Linked DNA regions of Homo sapiens: region 1 is linked to region 2. Evidence: fine-mapped expression QTL. Tissue or cell type: lung. Region 2 holds a variant in brackets; the other region holds the start of a gene. All regions are shown on one strand. Distances are from middle to middle.

Region 1 (2,651 bases), 22 kb after region 2:
GATTCAAAAGGCCTGATGAGAGAAAAAAATAACCTAACTCAACTGGTCCCTATGTCCCTCAGTTCAACAAGTGTTTGTTAAAGGATCAGATAACCAACTGTTAGATTACAATGATAGAGAAGTCACAATCCCCACCCTCAAGGAGCTCATTCTACTGTGGAGAGGCATACAAATAATTATAATACTGTAAGAATATGCACATGAAAAAGCCCTACTGCTACCTAAGCCTCTGTCTGGGATGCCCACTGTCTGCTCTTTTCATCCTGTAGCTTTAAATATTGGCTTCTCAAAGAGGCTTCCTCTGATCATCTAACTCATTCACTCAAATATTTTTTGAGTGTTTCCAGCACTGTTCTAAACCCCAAAGACAAAAGAATGAACAAAACAAAATCCCTGCTCTTATGGCATTTACATTCTAGTGGGGAGAGATTCACATTAAACAAAGATGCATACATTTAATATGAAAAAATAACTCTCTATGAAGAAAAATGAGGCAGGGTAACCAGAGTAGCGGGAGTGCTATTTGGGCAGAAGTCCTCTCTGAGGAGGTCAGATTTCAGTAGAAAGTTTAAGTTGTGGCATGATCTCCAAAGATATTTGAGGAAGAAAAAGACCAGGTGAAAAAGCTTCTAGGACCATCTGTTATTCTGCATACCAGTTCCTTGTTTCCTTCACAGCACATCACAGTTCCTGGAAGTCTTACATATTTATATTTACTTTTATCTGTTCTCCTCGCAAATATAAGCTCCAAGTAATGGCAAGGATCTCTTATATGTCGATGTCAGTGTCCCTGGCCCTTAGAACAGTGCCTAACCATACAAAGCTGATGTTCACTCTATCTGCTGAATGAATAAATAATTGTTGCGCTCACTAATGATAACAACTCCTAACTTTATTACCTGGCTTTCTATTGGAATCCTGACAGCTCCATGAGGTAGCTAAGGATAATAATCTACAGATTTAAAAAAATGAAGCGAAGAGTGTGAGAATAGTCATCAGGTGGGCTTCTAACAGGAAAAGGTCTCAGGGCCTACGGCAAAATTCGGAGGGGGGGTTACGGAAAGGACAGGGTGGATTAGGCCATGGTGACTTGGAGAGAGGAGGCACGACTGGCCATTTTTCCTGAGTCTGGAAAAAGCAGCCTAGTACAAGAAGCTCCTTCGAGCGACCTCCTTAAAATACACTTACCTGGTCTACGTCGTCCGCCATGTTTCAAACCCTGCGCCCTTTCCCGCCTCTCGCGAGAACACAAGAGCAACGTCAATCTCCGGAAACGTGAGGATACAATACACCGGAAATAGAGAGAAACCTGTTGTGCTCTTTCCTGCTTCCCGCAGTTTTTTAGTGGCCACGGGTATGGGGTGGAGCTTCCTTTAGGGGCGTGACTAGGCCTCCAACGAAGGGGCGTGGCCAAGCGCACCGCCTCGGGGCGGGGCCGGCGTTCTAGCGCATCGCGGCCGGGTGCGTCACTCGCGAAGTGGAATTTGCCCAGACAAGCAACATGGCTCGGAAACGCGCGGCCGGCGGGGAGCCGCGGGGACGCGAACTGCGCAGCCAGAAATCCAAGGCCAAGAGCAAGGCCCGGCGTGAGGAGGAGGAGGAGGGTGAGAGCGAGGCCCAGCGGGCTTCGCGGGAGACGCCGCCGGTGGGCGGAGGAGGCCCAGAGGCAGGGCGGGAGTCCAGACGCGGAGGCCTGGTGGAGGTTGCTGCGCGCGTTCCGCGCCGTGGGGGCAGCCCGGCAGGCTGCGGCCGGCCCTCCCCGCTGTCCCCGCGTCTTTGTCCTGCGCACCCAGAGCGGTTTCCCGCGAGCTTCGCCCGATCCAAGCTCCTGCGTAGCTTTTTTCCCGCTCCCCGTTGTCCAGAGGATACAGATGTTCAGGGTTGAACTCGGAGAAGGCAGTTATTTGTGTCCCAGGAAGACAGACGGACGGACCAGGACGTAGAGTGATGCAGTGTGCTGACTCCCGAATGATAACTTCAGCTGAGTCTCACCCAGAGTTCCACAGTGGGATCCCACCTGACTTCCCCTCATGGATATTTGATAGGCTTCTTACATTTGTCATGGGCAATGCAGAACTCATGGTTTTCCTCTTTAAATCTATGCTTTCCTCCGTTTTTCCAGTCTCAATACTTGTTATAAAGCAAAGCCCACCTTTTTCTTATGTCCACACATCCAGTCCGTCAGCAAGTCCAGTCAGTTCAGCCTCAAGAGTGTATTTCAAATTTGTCCACTTCTCTTCATTTCCATGACCACAGCCCCTGTCCAAGTCATCATCACCTTTCAGTTGAGTGACTGCAGTTTCCTCTTTACTGGCCTCCCAGCTCTGCATCCAGCAACCCAAATAATCTTAAAAAAAAAAAAAATCATGCCCTGCTCCTGCTTTAAACTCCCCTTGGTTTTCCATTGCTCTTAGCTTAAAATCCAGTTGTTTTATCCTGGCCTACAAGATACTACATGTTTTGGCTCTTGCTACCTCTCCTGTTTCTCTTACCACTTGTTTCCTTGCCAGATACCCTCCTTATTGGCCTCCTTTCTCTTCCTCAAATATGCCAAGTTATTCCTTGAGTCTTTTCCTTTGATGTTCCTTCTGCCTAGAGTGAACCCCCCATGGCTTTTACCAGGGCTGATTTTTTCTATTTCTTCAAAACTC
Region 2 (2,844 bases):
CACCTTCTTTCAAACTCCCATTTGAACCTTCCATCCACAGTGCTGATCACAAAGTCCTGTTGCACTAGTCTTCTTGTCATTTAAATATTCATTTAACATTTATTGAAGACAAATTCTTGGCCAGGCCCTCTGCCAGGGGTTGTGAATATGGTCTCTGCCTGTAAGCAGCAATTTGTCTCATGGGGCTTAGTGTTCTTCAGTCCACTCTGTTCAACTACCCTGCCCTCCCCAGAAGCTCTGAGGACCCCCTGATACCTACCCCCAGCTTAACAGCCCTCTTGTGTTGCAGATCTCCTACCTAGACCCCTCAAGAGGACTCGGGCTACCATCAGGCCCAGTCAGCCAACAAATCTGAGCTCCACCCATACTGATCCCCACACAGGTTGCTCCAGAACCTCCTGGATTCCAGAGCAATAGCTTAAAGTCATAGTGTCAGTCTGAGGTGTGTTCCAAGAAATTTGTTACTAATAGGAAAGTACCAAAGGGATTTTTCTATAAGTTGGGGCAGACTAAAAGTTTTCCTGTGTAATAGGCATTGTGTCCAGCTCCATTTCCCCTTTCCTCTGGTTTCCTTCAGAGAACGACCCCTCCTTCTGCACTTAGACCATACAGCTCAGGTGGGGATAACCTTGCTCTTAGTTCCAGAAATGGGCGTGTGACTGAGGCCTGGCCAATCAGAGCCCCACATTCTCATGGCCGTAAAAACCAGCCCACAGATGGGCACAGGGACCAAGCAAGGAGGATGAGACCACTTTAGCTGGAGGGCAGGTAGGCTGGAAGTCTGCATCTGCTACAGGGAAGAGCTTGCCCACGAATGAAATCCATGTAGTTCAGCAGAGCTGAGTGACAGAGAAACATCAACTGTGCTTCTTGATCTAGCCAGGATGACTCCTGGAACTTTTATTAATTTTCTACATTGAACACAGCTGAGCATTACTCACATCTGACATCTGTTCAAACAATAACATTTCTCCCCTCCTGGCAGCAGGCTAAAAGCAATATGGGTAATAGCTAAGTATTATTTGAGACAGGGTCTTGTTATGTTGCTCAGGCTGATCTCGAACTCCTGGGCTCAAGTAATCCTCCCGCCTCAGTCTCCTTAGTGGTTGAGTTTACAGGTGTGTGTCACCGCACCCACTTTAGCTGATTAAATAAAAGGGTGTGTGAAACCACTTTCTGCCTCTTAGTGTGAAGAGGGATAGTACTCTAGTTTGGGCAAATCTTCAAAAATCACTATTTGAAATTTGAAAATCGTCCATTTGCAGCTAATGATTAAGTTTAACTTGGGATACTCAAGTTACTTTTCATTTTGGGCACATTTCATCTCAAAGATGTGGTCCC[A/G]TATTTTGTCCATTTTTCTTTGTGGGAGGCAATGGCAATTCATATCGGCCTCTCATAAAACAACCAAGACCGGGATCCAGGCATGATACTTGCTGAAGAGGCTTCCCTTAGGCTAATCTGACACCTCATTGCAGAAACCACCAGTCACCAGCTCCACTGACCACCTGCCATCCAGCTGGCTGGAGCCGAGTGCTCTGCAGACTCAGAAGTCCAAGGCGTGGCTCCCAGGGGCCCTCACACCATAACCCCTCAGTGGACAGCACCACTGCAGAGGAAACCTCAGTGTGGACCATGGCAGGGCCCTGCTTGAGCTGTCTCTGTTGTGGATTGAGTCCCAGCTCCAAAAGGACTCACACATTGCCTCCCCTCCCTCCATTTCCTGACACATAGGTGGCTATTCTGCAGTTAACCTTTTATTGTCCCTCCCCTTGTATCTTAGCAGCTAGGAAATGAAGTAGGTTGGTATGTTTTAGTTGTGTGTGCATATGAGAGTAACAGTGTCAGATATTAAGGTTCATGGGTTTTAGAAATGTGTATAATCAAGTCCTCACAGCCAAAAGTTTTAGTGTAAACTATCAGTTCCAGGAGAAAAAGGAGAAAGATAACTAAGAATGAAGAGAAGAAAGTGTCCAGGAATTCAGTGTGACTATCAGAAACCACTAAAAATGAATGCAGTGCTGGGGAGAACTGCAGACTGGCAGAGCGAGGCCAGATGGCCTGTCACCCCACGCCTTAGTGAACACCAGGAGCCAACAGACTGCCCAGAGCCAGGGCCTTGGTACCACACCCACACCACAGGCTCACACAGGTAGGAGGCAGGCAGGTTCAATCTTGCTGCCACATACTAATGACCACAGGCGGCCTGAGGTCTTTGAGGTTGTTTCTTCTAACATTCTGCAGGAGGGAGTTCATTTTTCAATACTGAATGGGCTGCTGTAAACAGGTTATCTCCTGGGACCACTACAGCTTAAGGACAAAGCGTGGGGATGGCACAAGTGAAGGGAGGGTGTCTCTCCTGCCTCCTCACCTAAGATGAAGCCTCCATCAGCTCACCCACACTTGTTTTTCTCTTCTCCATGAACTTGCAGGGGCATGTACCATTAGTAAGGAAAATAAAACCTTTTAAATATGTTTACTGAAAGCATCTTTCTTGCACAAGGCTTAAAGTACTGTGCATTTGTGAGCATATCGTGCTTGATAATGAACACGCACACACATTCAGCTCATTTACAGACAAACCATCCACAAGTTGGATTTTCTACATTTCAAAATGGAATGACCATAGCGGAGGATGTCAGGTTCTAAGCCCTGTCTTGATAAAGTTTGAGAGATTGTAACACGCTTTTACTTTCCTCTTTAGGTTTTAAGCATTATGTGCTGACTGAAGCTAGAAATAAAAACAGCTTTGCTTTCAGCCAATTTCTGCTTTACTGTGTCACTGAGACATGTTGTTTGAGACCCCTCATCATTAATGGCCAATGATCCAAGAGTGGAAAAATGGTC

Evidence for each region. PIP is the estimated chance that this variant, and not a neighbour inherited with it, causes the effect.
Region 1: it holds the start of XPC, and the variant in region 2 is fine-mapped to the expression of XPC in lung (TOPMed, PIP 0.94). The same link has a PIP of 0.9 or more in sun-exposed skin and whole blood.

The regions. Positions count from the first base shown.
Region 1 is chr3:14,177,419-14,180,069 of GRCh38, reverse strand. XPC (XPC complex subunit, DNA damage recognition and repair factor) reads left to right here and starts at 1,469. Exons shown (of 16, transcript NM_004628.5): 1 at 1,469-1,604. The coding sequence starts at 1,502. LSM3 (LSM3 homolog, U6 small nuclear RNA and mRNA degradation associated) reads right to left here and starts at 1,253. Exons shown (of 4, transcript NM_014463.3): 1 at 1,189-1,253. The coding sequence starts at 1,209. RefSeq lists enhancers at 1,160-1,209, 1,310-1,659 and a silencer at 1,710-1,829.
Region 2 is chr3:14,199,146-14,201,989 of GRCh38, reverse strand. LSM3 (LSM3 homolog, U6 small nuclear RNA and mRNA degradation associated) reads right to left here. Exons shown (of 4, transcript NM_014463.3): 4 at 868-2,844. Among named protein-coding and RNA genes, the nearest start is that of LSM3, 22 kb to the right of the region's middle. The variant A/G (reference allele first, on the strand shown) is at 1,342.